Regions from separate parts of the Homo sapiens genome. Here region 1 is linked to region 2. Evidence: fine-mapped expression QTL. Tissue or cell type: nasal epithelium. Region 2 holds a variant in brackets; the other region holds the start of a gene. All regions are shown on one strand. Distances are between the middles of the regions.

Region 1 (5,631 bases), 38 kb after region 2:
AATGATAGGGTGGGCCCTCCCTGCCCTTTACTGGCTCTAGCTAATGACAAGTCAGTTTCTCCAGCGGTTCCTGTCTCCCCGGTTTTTCATCTCCTTAGTCCCCGGTTTCTGAACCACGGTAGGGGTCATGAATTTTTTTTTTTTTAATTGGCAGTGATCAAAAATGGTGCCCTCAGTCATCTTCCCCTTCAGAGCCCTTCATGTCCTTTGGAGGCATCTTGGCATTCACCCTCTGAGGAAGCAGGCATTACTCAGCGGATTCACTTCTGCAGAGTCCTTCCACACACACCCCTTCTGTGTGCAAATGGACTTTATAGCCAATGCAGGCACAATTCTACCAGGGGAGGAAGAAAACAGGCCAGCCGAGCCTGCTGGAATAATCCAGTGGGGGCCTTTTTAGTGGGCCTCCAAGGGCACTGGTCTTGCTTTTCTCATAGCTGTGGTGCCCTAGAAATGAACTCTCCCTCCACTATCCACTCCTCAGTGAAAGATGTGGACCAGCCAGGAAGAAGCAAAGAAGTGCTGTTTTATTGACTCCAGAAGAGAGGCCTTCCAAGCGAGCAGGCACTGTCATTCCCAGCCTGTATCCCAGAGGCTCTGAGCTCCTAGCAGGCAGTAAACAGTTGCAGGGGTGAAAGCATTCATTCGGCAAATCGGCAAATCTTCACTGAGCATCCACTGTAAGCTTGGTGCTGTACTGAGGATAGAGCTGTAGACAAGACAATTTCTTCCTCAAGGTGCTTCTAGAAAGAGAGAGAGATATTGTGTGTTTTTTGTTTTTTGTTTTTTGTTTTTTTTTGACACAGAGTCTCGTTCTATAGCCCAGGCTGGAGTGCAGTGGTGCAATCTCGGTTCACTGCAACCTCCACCTCCCAGGTTCAAGCGATTCTCATGCTTCAGCCTCCTGAGTAGCTGGGATTACAGGCGCGCTACCATGCCCGGCTAATTTTTGTATTTCTAGTAGAGACGTGGTTTCACCATGTTGGTCATGCTAGTCTCGAACTCCTGACCTCATGATCCGCCCGCCTCAGCCTCCCAAAGTGCTGGGATTACAGGCGTGAATCACCGTGCCCGGCCAGATTGGTTTTGAACTCAGTGATGAGGATAAGGTTGGCCAATGTGAACTGACAGCCATATACATAACTTTCTGCCACCTCTTCCTCTGCCAGAAAGGCACTTTCTTCCCTCCTCCAAGCTTCCAGAATACTAGAGAGAAGGACTCTTTTGCATCTGAGCGCTGTTGATTAGCATTTGTGAGAATCTGTGTGAATAACAATACCTCTTCTTCAGATTCTGGGGGTGACCCAAGGGATTCCTTTGAAGTGACTGGGCTCTCCCCTGCTCACCTCTGTGGTCTGGCAGGAAATATACTGGTGAAAAACCTTCAAGCGTACGAAATGCTGGTGAGGGGGATCCAGTCACGCTTGAATCATATGTTCATTCAACCAGTTGACTAATGATTGATTAATTGATTGGCTGATTGAGATCGGGTTTCCCTATGTTGCCCAGGCTGGTCTCCAACTCCTGGGCTCAAGTGATTGATCCTCCCGCCTCAATCTCCCAAAGTGCTGGCATAAGGGGTGTAAGCCACTGTGCCTGGCCCATTCAACCAATATTTATTTATGTATTTATTTATTTTAGATGGAATCTCCCTCTATTGCCCAGGCTGGAGTGCAGGGGTGTGATTAGCTGACTGCAGCCTCCACCTCCTGGCTTCAAGCAATTCTCCTGCCTCAGCCTCCTGAGTAGCTAGGATTACCAGCGTATGCCACCATGCCCGGCTAAGTTTTTTGTATGTATTTTTAGTAGACATGAGGTTTCACCATGTTGGCCAGGCTAGTCTCGAATTCCTGACCTCAGGTGATCCGCCCACCTCGGCCTCCCAACGTGCTGAGATTACAGGCGTGAGCCACCGTGCCTGGCCCAACCAATTTTTTTTTTTTTTTTGAGATAGAGTTTCGCTCGTTGCCTAGGCTAGAGTGCAATGGCGCGATGTCAGCTCACCGCACCGCACCCTCCACCTCCCGGGTTCAAGTGATTCTCCTGCCTCGGCCTCCTGAGTAGCTGGGATTACAGGCATGCGCCACCACGCCCGGCTAATTTTGTACTTTAAGTAGAGACGGGGTTTCTCCATGTTGGTCAGGCTGGTCTCAAACTCCCGACCTCAAGTGATCCGCCCGCCTTGGCCTCCCAAAGTGCTGGGATTACAGGTGTGAGCCACCGCGCCGACCTGGCCCAACCAATTTTTATTGAGCACTTGCTGTGTATCCCAGGCATTTGTGATACAACAGTGAGCAAAACATTCTTTCGGGGGGAAGGGAGATGAACAGTACATAAATGGGAGAAAAATGCAGGGAAAGCGGGTATAGGGAGATGGAGAGAAGACAGGTACCACAATCTTCTGGCCTTGTTAGGGTGAAATTCTATTCTCCCCTGAGATGTGTAGAAATGTATATCGGTTTGCTCCATTTTTATTGACCCACACTGCCTTGATTAACTGGAAAAGTTGAGACCCTAATCATCAGTCTGTCAATGACTGAATGAGACAGGACAGGAGATATATTCACCAAATGTCTCCTGGAATAGGGAGGCCCCGGGTGAATGATCCCAGACTGGGTTGATAGGAAGGAAGTAAATTAATACCAAATGTGAAGGGTAGTGGGCTTGTTTTATTTTTATATTATTATTTTATTATCACTATTAGTTGAGACAGGGTCTCATTCTGTTGCCCAGGCTGGAGTGCAGTGGCGCCATCTTTGATCACTGCAGCCTCAGTCAACCTCCCAAGCGAACCTCCAGCCTCAGCCTCCCAAGTAGCTGTCACTACAGGCAGGAGGCACAACACCCGGCTAATTAAAAATACATTTCAAAAATATAAAAACAAAACCCAAAACCTTTGTAGAGAGGGTGGTCTCTTACTCTTGGCCTCAAGTGATTCTCCCACCTCGGCCTCCCAAAGTGCTGGGATCACAGGTGTGAGCAGCTGCGCCCCGCCTGGGGTTGCTCTTGAGGAGCCAAACTTTGCCAGATTAGGCTGACAGTGAGAAAATAAATTCTTCCACGGTAGATACTGGGTGAAAAAGTGCACGTCAGCGGGCAAGGGTAAGTAACGACAATAACAGGAACTTCTAGGCGCTGACCCCAAGCTCCCTTCCGGGCCCTATCCCGAGCAGTCCCCGGGCAACCTCCAGCGCTCGCCCCGGCGCGCTAGGCTGGGACCTGAACCCCGGCTGCCGGGTGGCTTCTGGGCCCCTCCTCATTGCCGCTCCTGGGTCTTTCGGGGTGTCCGGCTCCCCAGGATGGGAAGGATTCCGGTTCACCTCCGCAGGGCTAAGTCACCGGGCGGCCCGCCTCGGCCCCCAGGGCCCGGGGGCAGGGAGCGCCGAGGGTCCGCCGCGGGGCTGCGGCGCAGGCGGTGCCGGGGCGCGGCGCTGCGGGGCAGGCGGGCCTCGGCGGCGGCGGCAGGCGGGTCGCTCCCTGCTCCGCCTCCCGTGCTCCGCCCTGCGCTCCCGCTCCGCCCTCCGGCTCGGCGCCCGCCCGCTTGCTCTCCTCGCTCGCTCGCTCGCTCCGCGGCCCCCCATGCGGATGTGACATTTCACGCCGCCGCCATTTTGAGAGCGAGCCGAGCCGAGCTGCCGGGCGCCGCGTCCGCTGCCGGAGCCCCGACGACGACGCCGAGGAGGCGGAGGCCGCGGCTCTCGGAACGCGGCCGGCCCGTCGCCCGCCCGCTCCGCCGCTCCCGCCGGCCCCAGGGCCCGCAGGCCCGCCGCGGCCGGCCAGGCCTCCCGTCCGCCGCGCCCGGCCCGAGGCGGGGCTGACTCCGCGGCCCCCGACCGGCCGCCCTCCGCCCCCGGCCGGCCCGCGGCCCCGCAGCCCCGGCCCCGGCCCCGGCGGCGGGAGGCGGGCCCCGCGGCGGCGGCGGCGGCGGCCGCAGCGAGCGACGAGGCCGCCCGGCCCGGCCCGCCGGCCGCCCGCCCGCCTCGGCGCCGAGATTGGGCGAATCGCGAGCAAGTACGTGCGCGTCTCCCTGCCGCCGCCGCCGCCCGCCGCGGGCCGCCCCGGGGCCGCCGTCGCCGACGACGCGCGGGAGGAGGAGGAGGAGGCCGCCCCGCCGCCGCCGCCGCCGCCGCCGCCCCGGCTCGCCGCCGCCCGCCCGCCGGGCTCGCAGCCCCGGCCCCCGGCCGCAGGCGAGGCCCAGGCCGCGGCCGACATGAACCACCAGCAGCAGCAGCAGCAGCAGAAAGCGGGCGAGCAGCAGTTGAGCGAGCCCGAGGACATGGAGATGGAAGGTGAGGCCCGAGGGCCGGCCGCGGCGGGGCCGGGGGGCGCCTTTCATTGTGGCCGGGGGAGCCGCGGGAGCCACGCGAGGGGCTCGCCATCTTTAACCAGGCCCCGGGCGGCCGCCGGGCCTCGGCCTGGCCTCCCGGCCCCGGCCTGCGAGGCTGCAAAGTCATGCCGGGTCCGCGGGCGAGGGGCGGCCGCCGGGACCCCGGCCCCGTGCATTGTCCCGACCTCGCGTCCGCCGGGCCTCCGCGGCACAAAGCGCCCTGAGTTGTAAATTCGAGCGCTCAGGCAGCGGAGGGACGGAGGTGTTTTCTCACCCAGGTTGGGAGGCGGACTCCGGGGACCGTCCCCGTTCTGGGGCGTCCGGTTGGATCTGGTGTGGCTGGGGAATTCCTGACCTCCCCGGGCGCGGGGCTCGCCCGCACCTGCTCCGGTGCGCTCCCCCGGAGGGCGCGCCGTGGCTCGGAAGCGCTCTTCCAAATCACTTTCTAACAGCACTGCCTAGCGTCGGGCTTACGTTCGAAAATACCTGCAAGGAACGCAGATGTTGTCAGGTTTTGGACTGGCCCAGAGTTCTGACCCGGGCGCTGTTGGTTTCCGAATCCACCTGTTTTTCGGGGAGTTTGTACTTGGCAGTGTGTGGTGCAGCCAGCATCCGGCCAGGTGTGCGCTTGCAACCGTGCGAAAGCCCTGCCGCACATGGCTGCCTGCATCAGAATCAAACCTGACTCGAAAGGTAACTCGGTTTTCTGCCGATGTGGCAGTAATTTTCCAAGGCACTGTAGTTTGAGGTATAGAGTCTTGGTTGTAAAGGTTGGATGTGAAGACGCTGTAAAGAGAAGGGTGTTGGATTTAGGGAGTTGGTCGTTGGAAGGCACTTTTTCTCACGACCCATTTCACTGAAACAAAGCAAAGTCCAAATGGTCTTTAAAAAGTTTTCTTACCTACGTGACGAGTTCAGGCTGTCGGGAGTCAAATGGAGGCCACCTGAATGAAAACGGCGTGGAATGCTTTAGTTTTGCTTTTAGCAAGGGATCTTGGGTTGCCTCAATGAATGAAGCTCCAGGGGAGCTCAGGAAAAGCAGTATTTGTCCTGTGCGGTGGCTCCAAGTGTGGGGCGCTGCACACCGGTTGGTGGGAACACTTAAGCGTGACTGGTGTTCACCTCTGAATAGAATAACTTACTTCCAGTAATTGGATAGTCACTGAAAAAATGGCTGGCCAGGTTGCAAATGACAAAGTGGCTGGGATTCTGCAGTAGGCACTCCCCAGTGGTATTTATCAATGGCAGTAATGGGGGACAGAAGAGCGGAGTCCACGCCAAGGACTGGGTTATCTGTTTCACTT
Region 2 (7,886 bases):
TCAACTCACTGCAGCCTCCACCTCCCGATTCAAGTGATTCTCCTGCCTCAGCCTCCTGAGTAGCTGGGACTACAGGCATGCACCACCACACCCGGCTAATTTTTTGTACTTTTAGTAGAGACGGGATTTCACCATATTGGCCAGGCTGGTCTCAAACCCCTGACCTCGTGATCCACCCGCCTCAGCCTCCCAAAGTGTTGGGATTACAGGCGTGAGGGACTGCACCTGATCCTTTTTTCTTCTTTAAGCCTGCTGCCTCCTCTTGTAAGTACCCTTCTGATTACATTGGGCCCACCTGGATAAGCCATCGTATTCTCCCCATCTCAGATCAACTGATCAGCAACCTTAATTCTATCTACAAACTTAATTTCTCATTGCGGTGTAACATAACATATTCACAGGTCCCAGGGATTAGGACGTGAACACCTTTTGGGTCATTATTCTGCCTACCTGCCACAGGTACAGAGAAAGGCATTTTATTGAACTTACAACATTTCCTCCTAAAACATTTTTAGAGATTAAATTTATCATGAACCATGTTTCAGGAAAAAATGTTCCTTAAACTCTTCTTGTTTTTGTTTTTTTGAGACTGGGTTTCACTCTGTTGCCCAGGCTGGAGGGCATTGGTGCAATCACAGCTCACTGCAGCCTCGATCTCCCAGGCTCAAGTGATCCTCCCACCTCATTCTTCCAAGTTGCTGGGACCATATGCACATGCCACCACACCCGGCTAATTTTTTGTTTTGTAGAGAAAAGGTCACCGTATGTTTTCTAGGTTGGTCTCGAAATTCTGGGCTCAAGAGATCCTCCTGCCTCAGCCTCCGAAAGTGCTGGGATTACAAACGTGAGCCACTGCAGCTGAATCAAACTCTTAAATAAATTCTCTTTTGCTTTTTTTTTTTTTTTGAGACAGTCTCACTCTGTCGCCCAGGCTGGAGTGCAGTGGTGCAATCCAACCTCTGCCTCCTGGGTTTAAACCATTCTCCTGCCTCAGCCTCCCAAGTAGCTGAGACTACGGGCATGAGCAACCACGCCCGGCTAATTTTTATATTTCAGTAGAGCTGGGGTTTCGCCATGTTGGCCAGGCAGGTCTCAAACTCCCAACCTCAGATGATCCACACACCTCGGCCTCCCAAAGTGCTGGGATTACAGGCTTGAGCCACTGTGCCCGGCCTCTTTGGCTTTTTTCATTCACAAACATTGCTTGAGTTATAAGCCCCATGTAGGCAAAAGGAGACACCTAAAACATGGTCCCTGCCTTTGAGAAGTTCGGTGTGGTTCCCCCAGCAGCCACTTTCCCCGCTTTTTGCTCACAAAATCTGTTTGTTGCAGATGAAAATAGGCCTTGGCTGGACGCGGTGGCTCATGCCTGTAATCCCAGAACTTTGGGAGGCCAAGGCAGACAGATCACTTAAAGCCAGGAGTTCGAGACTAGCCTGGGCAACATGGTGAAACACTGTCTCTACTAAAAATACAAAAATTAGCTGGTATGGTAGCTTGCGCCTGTAATCCCAGCTACTTGGGAGGCTGAGGCAGGAGAATCGCTTGAAGCCAGGAGACGGAGGCTGCAGTGAGCCAAGATCACGCCACTGTACTCCAGACTGAGCAACAGAGTGAGACTCTGACTCAAAAAAAAAAAAAAGTTACTAGGTCTGAGGATTGTCAGCCCTATAATACTGACTATTTATTTGATGGCTCCTGCTATGTGAGTTTCTTTGGGAAATCGACATATTTGCCAACTTGAGTCAGGCTTGCTAATGAATTATACGAATTTAAAATCATGGCCGGGTGCAGTGGCTCATGCCTGTAATCCCAGCACTTTGGGAGGCTGAGGCAGGTGGATTGCTTGAGCCCAGGAGTTAAAGACCAGCCTAGCCAACATGGCAAAACTCCGTCTCTACTAAAAATACAAAAATTAGTTGGGCATGGTGGCACATGCCTGTAATTCCAGCTACTTGGGAGGCTGAGCCACAGGAGGTAGAGGTTGCAGTGACCAGAGATGGCACCACTGCACTCCCGCCCAGGTGAGAGTAGGAAATTCTGTCTCAAAATAAATAAATAGACCAGGTGCAGTGTTTCATGCCTGTTATCTCAGCACTTTGGGAGGCCGAGGCAGGTGGATGACCTGAGATCAGGAGTTCAAGACTAGCCTAGCCAACATAACAAAACCCCGTCTCTACTAAAAATACAAAAATTAGCCGGGCGTGGTGGCACATGCCTGTAGTCCCAGCTACTTGGTAGGCTGAGGTGGGAGGATCGCTTGAGTCCAAGGGGCGGAGGTTGCAGTGAGCTGAGATAGTGCCACTGCACTCTGGCGTGGGCAATGAGTGAGATCCTGTCTCAAAAAAATAAAAATAAAAATGAAAAATAATTAATTAAAATAAAACAATGCCAAGCTGGGCGTGCTCACTCCTGTAATTCCAGTGACTCTGGAAGTGGGAGGGGGAGGATCACAAGCCTGAGAGGTCGAGGCTACAAAGAGCTGTGATTACACCACTGTACTCCGGCCTGGACAACAGAGTGAGGCCCTGTCTCATAAGCAAATAACATAACATAACACAATAAAATAATGCCAAGTCTTCAGGAATAAATCCTAGAAATAAAGGGTATTCCACCCTGTCCCTGCTCCCTGGAGCTGTCATGACAAATCACAATGTGCTTAGCACTATGCACAGGACCAAGATCTACATTAGACACAGTGCCTAGGTCCCTCAATATTTTTAGGGGCCCAGGGAATTGTTTAAATTTCTTTTAATATTAGAAGTAAAAAAAAAAATAGGCTGGGTGCAGTGGCTCACGCCTGTATTCCCAGCACTTTCAGAGGCCAAGCTGGGTGGATCACTTTAGCTAAGGAGCTCGAAACCAGCCTGGGCAACATGGTGAAACCCCAGCTCTACAAAAAAAAAAAAAAAAATCAGCCAGGTGTAGTGGCTTGTGCCTGTGGTCTCAGCTGCTTGGGAGGCTAAGGTAAAAGGATTGCTTGAGCCGAGGAGGCAGAGGTTGCAGTGAGCTGAGATGATGCCACTGCTCTCCAGCCTGGGTGATAGACTAAGACTATCTCAAAAATAAATAAATAAGAACTGAAAAATGAATATAATCCAGTCTCCCTTATATTTCTCTTTGTACCAATACAGTCATGAATGACAATATTTTTTCATGAAGGAAGGGTCCATGGAAGTTATAGTGTGGCCCCAACAGTACCTGGCACAGAATAGACCTCAGTAG[G/A]TGTGAGTTGTTTGACTATCCTCATCCTTGTCGCTATTATTGGCAAGAATGAGGCACTCCTCCTTACACTATGGTCACCAGACCAGCCTAGCCAGCTGGGAGGGTAAATAGAACCAAAGTAATTATAAGGCTGGGTGCGGTAGCTCACACCTGTAGTTCCAGCTACTCCAGAGGCTGAGACAAGAACGTTGCTTGAGCCCAGGAGTTACAGGCTGCAGTGAGCTATGATTGCTATGGTTGCAACACTGCACTCCAGCCTGGGACACAGAGCAAGACCCTATCTCTTAAAAAAAAAAAAAAAAAAAAAAAAGTCTGGGCGACCTGGCTCACGCCTGTAATCCTAGCACTTTGGGAGGATCACCTGAGATCAGGACTTCGAGACCAGCCTGGCCAACATGGTGAAACCTTGTCTCTACTACAAATACAAAAATTAGCCAGGCGTGGTGGCCGGTGCCACTAATCCCAGCTACTCAGGAGGCTGAGGTGAGAGAATCGCTTAAACCTGGCAGGCAGAGGTTGTGGTGAGCTGAGATCGAGCCACTGCATTCCACCCTGGGTGATAGAGTGAGACTCCGTCTCAACAACAACAACAAAAAATTAGCACAAAGTAAGCTGGGTGGGTGGCTCATACCTGTAATCCCAGCAGTTTGGGAGGCTGCGGTGGGAGGATCACTTGAGTCCAGGAGTTCAACACCAGCCTGGGTAACATGGCAAGACCCTGTCTCTACAAAAAATTTAAAGATTAGCTGGGAGTCGGCCGGGTGCGGTGGCTCACGCCTGTAATCCCAGCACTTTGGGAGGCTGAGGCGGGCGGATCACGAGGTCAAGAGACAGAGACCACGGTGAAACCCTGTCTCTATTAAAAATACAAAAAAATTAGCGGGGCGTTGTGGTGGGTGCCTGTAGTCCCAGCTACTCGGGAGGCTGAGGCATGGGAATGGCGTGAACCCAGGAGGCGGAGCTTGCAGTGACCTGAGATCGCGACACTGCACTCCAGCCTGGGAGGCAGAGCAAGACTCCGTCTCAAAAAAAAAAAAAAAAAGATTAGCCAGGAGTGGTGGCACACCCATGTGGTCCCAGCTCCTTGGGAGGCTGAGGCAGGAGAATCACTTAAGCCTGGCAGGTCAAGGCTGCTGCGAGCTATATTCAAGCCATTGCACTCCAGACTGGGTGACACAGTGAGACTCTTTCTCAAAAAAAAAAAAGAAAAGAAAACACCATGTAATAATAATATGGATTCACAGTGGTAAGTGCTCATTGCACACTCAGCTCTGTGCTGAAGACATCATTGTCCCTACAAGGTGCATATTATCATCCCCATTCCACAGATGAGGTAATGGAAGCCAGAACAGTGAAGTGACTTGCCTAGGATCACACACCTACCAAGAAGGGGAGGCATGACTTGAATCCAGGTCCCTGGGATGCCACAGCCACATCCTGTATGTGCTAAGAGAGCTGATGCTAATCAGAAGGTCTTGCATGACAGTCTAGAAAATTTGGACTCACTCACACAGAAGTCAGTGCTGGCAGGTTTTTGGAAAGGAGCTTAGTGGTGCTTTGGGAGACGGATTTGGCAGTGGTGCTTGGAGTCTCAGCGGGTTGTCATAATTCCAGGGAATATTCCAAGAGGTGTCTAAGATTGGTAAAGGCAGGCTGGGCACAGTGGCTCGCACCTGTAATCCTAGCACTTTGGGAGGCCGAGGCGGGCAGATCACAAGATCAGGAGGTCGAGGCCAGCCTGGCCAGCATGGTGAAACCCCATCTCTACTAAAAATACAAAAAAATTAGCTGGGCCTGGTGGTGCGTGCCTGTAATCCCAGCTACTCAGGAGGCTAAGGCAGGAGAATCACTTCAACCCAGGAGGCAGAGGTTGCAGTGAGCCGAGATCGTGCCACTGCACTCCAGCCTGGGCAATAGAGTGAGACTCTGTCTCAAAAAAAAAAAAAAAGATTGGTAAAGGGGCGGGTGCAGTGGCTCACACCTATAATCCCAGCACTTGGGAGGCTGAATCGGGTGGATCACTTGAGCCCAGGAGTTCAACACAATGTAGAAAGACCTCATCTCTACCAAAAATTTTTGTTAAATAAAATTAGCCAGGTATGGTGACACTTGCCTGTGGTCCCAGGTACTTAGGAAGCTGAGGTGGAAGGATCATTTGAGCCTGGGAGGTCGAGGCTGCAGTGAGCCATGATCCTACCACTGCACTCCAGCCTGGGTGACAGAGCAAGACTCTGTTTCAAAAAAAAAAGCAAGAAGAAACAGGTGGAAATAATTTTAGCGACATATTTTATTTAACCCAGTATGTGCAAAATATTATCATCTCAACTTAAAAAGTATTAACTAGGCCCAGCAAGGGATTGGGGTGCTTTAACTAACATTTTGGAAGCTCCTTCCGGCCAGGCTCGGTGGCTCATCCCTGTAATCCCACTGCTTTGGGAGGCCAAGGTGGGTAGATCACCTGAGGTCAGGAGTTTTACACCAGACTGGCCAACATGTCAAAACCCCATCTCTACTCAAAATGCAAAAAAAAAAACAAAAAAAATTAGCCAGGCTTGGTGGCTCACACCTGTAGTCCCAGCCACTCGAGAGGCTGAGGCAGGAGAATCACTTGAACCAAGAGGCAGAGGTTGCAGTGAACTGAGATCTTGCCAATGCAGTCCAGCCTGGGTGACACAGGGAGACTCCATCTCCAAAACAAAAAAGCTCCTTCCTTTCTTCCCCTAGTAAGTTAAATGCTGGAGTTCACCATTGTGTGTGATTAGTCGGACTTTCTAGGTTGAAATCTCTGCTCTGTTTCATACTGCTGTGTGACCTTAGACAAATTCCTTAATCTCTCTGTGCCTCAGGAGGCACACCTGTCTATCTATAAGGAGGAATGATAATAATATAACTTACCTTGGGGGTTGTTGCAAGGAGTACATATTAAGCACTTAGACAAGCAGTGAGCATGTGGTTAGCATCCTTTTTGTACACTTGGAAAGGTTTTCCGCTCCTAAATTAATGATATGCAAGAGGCTGGGCACAGTGGTTCAGGCCTGTAATCCCAGCACTTTGGGAGGCTGAGATGGGCGAATCACCTGAGATCAGGAGTTTGAGACAAGCCTGGCCACATGGTAAAACCCCGTCTCTACTAAAAATACAAAAATTAGCTGGGCATGGTGGCGCACGCCTGTAATCTCAGCTACTCAGGAGGCTGAGGCACAAGAATCGCTTGAACCTGGGTGGTGGAGGTTGCAGTGAGCCGAGATCACTCCACTGCACTCCAGCCTGGGTGACAGAGTGAAACTGTGTCTCAAAATAAATCAACAAATAAAAAGGCCAGGCACAGTGTCTCACACCTGTAATCCCAACACTTTGACAGGCCAAAGTGGTGAGATAGTTCGAACCCAAGAATTCAAGACCAGCTTGGGCAACATAGTGAGACCTCATCTCTGAAAAAAATTTTTAAAGAATTGTCTGGACACAGAGGCTCAAGCCTGTAATCCCAGCACTTTGGGAGGCTAAAGCAGGTGGATCACTTGAGTCCGAAAGTTTGAGACCAGCCATGGCCAACTCCCCACCACCCCCCCAGCCCATCTCTACAAAACAATACAAAAATTAGTCAGGCGTGGTGGTGCACACTTTTAGTCCCAGCTACCAGCTAGTAGGGAGGCTGAGTTGGAAGCATTGCTCGAGCTCAGGAGTTCAAGGCTACAGTGAGCCATGATTGTGCCACTGCACTATAGCTTGGGAAAACAGTCCCAGACCCCTGTCTCAAAAAAAAAAAAAAGCCAGGCATGGTGGCTCACACCTGTAATCTCAGCACTTTGAGAGGCCGAGGCAGGCACATCACCTGAGATCAGGAGTTTGAGACCATCCTGGCCAACATGGTGAAACCCTGTCTCTACTAAAAATACAAAAATTAGCTGGGTGTGGTGGCCCATGCCTGTAATCCCAGCTACTGGGGAGGCTGAGGCAGGAGAATTGCTTGAACCCGAGAGGCGAAGGTTCCAATGAGCCAAGATCGAGCCACTGCTCTTCAGCCTATGCTACAGAGTGAGACTCCATCTCAAAATAAATAAATAAATAAATAAATAAATAAATAAATAAATAAGGCCAGGCGCAGGGGCTCACATCTGTAATCCCAGCACGTTGCGAGGCTGAGGCAGGCAGATAACCTGAGATCAGGAGTTTGAAACCAGCATGGCCAACATGGCAAAACCCCGTCTCTACTAAATATACAAAAATTAACCTGGCATGGTGGCAGGTGCCTGTAATCCCAGCTACTCAGGAGGCTGAGGCAGGAGAATCGCTTGAACCTGGGAGGTGGAGGTTGCAGTGAGCCGAGATCATGCCACTGCATTCCAGCCTGGGTGACAGCAAGATTCCATCTCAAAAAAAAAAAAAAAAAATAGCCATGGTGGCACACACCTGTAGTCCCAGCTATTCAGGAGGCTGAGGCTGGGGGATTACTTGAGCCCGAGAGGTCAAGGCTGCAAGACTCTGTTTCAAAAAAAGAAAAAAAAAAGTGACTATTTTAAAGAATGAATGCAGGTTAGGCCGGGCGCGGTAGCTCACGCCTGTAATCCCAGCACTTTGGCAGGCCGAGGCGGGCAGATCACGAGGTCAGGAGATTGAGACCATCCTGGCTAACACGGTGAAACCCTGTCTCTACTAAAAGT

Evidence for each region. PIP is the estimated chance that this variant, and not a neighbour inherited with it, causes the effect.
Region 1: USP7 starts here. The variant in region 2 is fine-mapped to the expression of USP7 in nasal epithelium (TOPMed, PIP 0.98).

The regions. Positions count from the first base shown.
Region 1 is chr16:8,961,865-8,967,495 of GRCh38, reverse strand. It overlaps USP7 (ubiquitin specific peptidase 7), which reads left to right and starts at 3,590. Exons shown (of 31, transcript NM_003470.3): 1 at 3,590-4,289. The coding sequence starts at 4,211. USP7-AS1 (USP7 antisense RNA 1) reads right to left here and starts at 4,783. Exons shown (of 2, transcript NR_184341.1): 1 at 4,602-4,783; 2 at 506-743. RefSeq lists enhancers at 117-738, 739-1,362, 1,363-1,986, 4,683-5,219 and silencers at 1,150-1,444, 3,128-3,487.
Region 2 is chr16:8,999,008-9,006,893 of GRCh38, reverse strand. No RefSeq gene overlaps it. Among named protein-coding and RNA genes, the nearest start is that of USP7, 39 kb to the right of the region's middle. The variant G/A (reference allele first, on the strand shown) is at 3,226.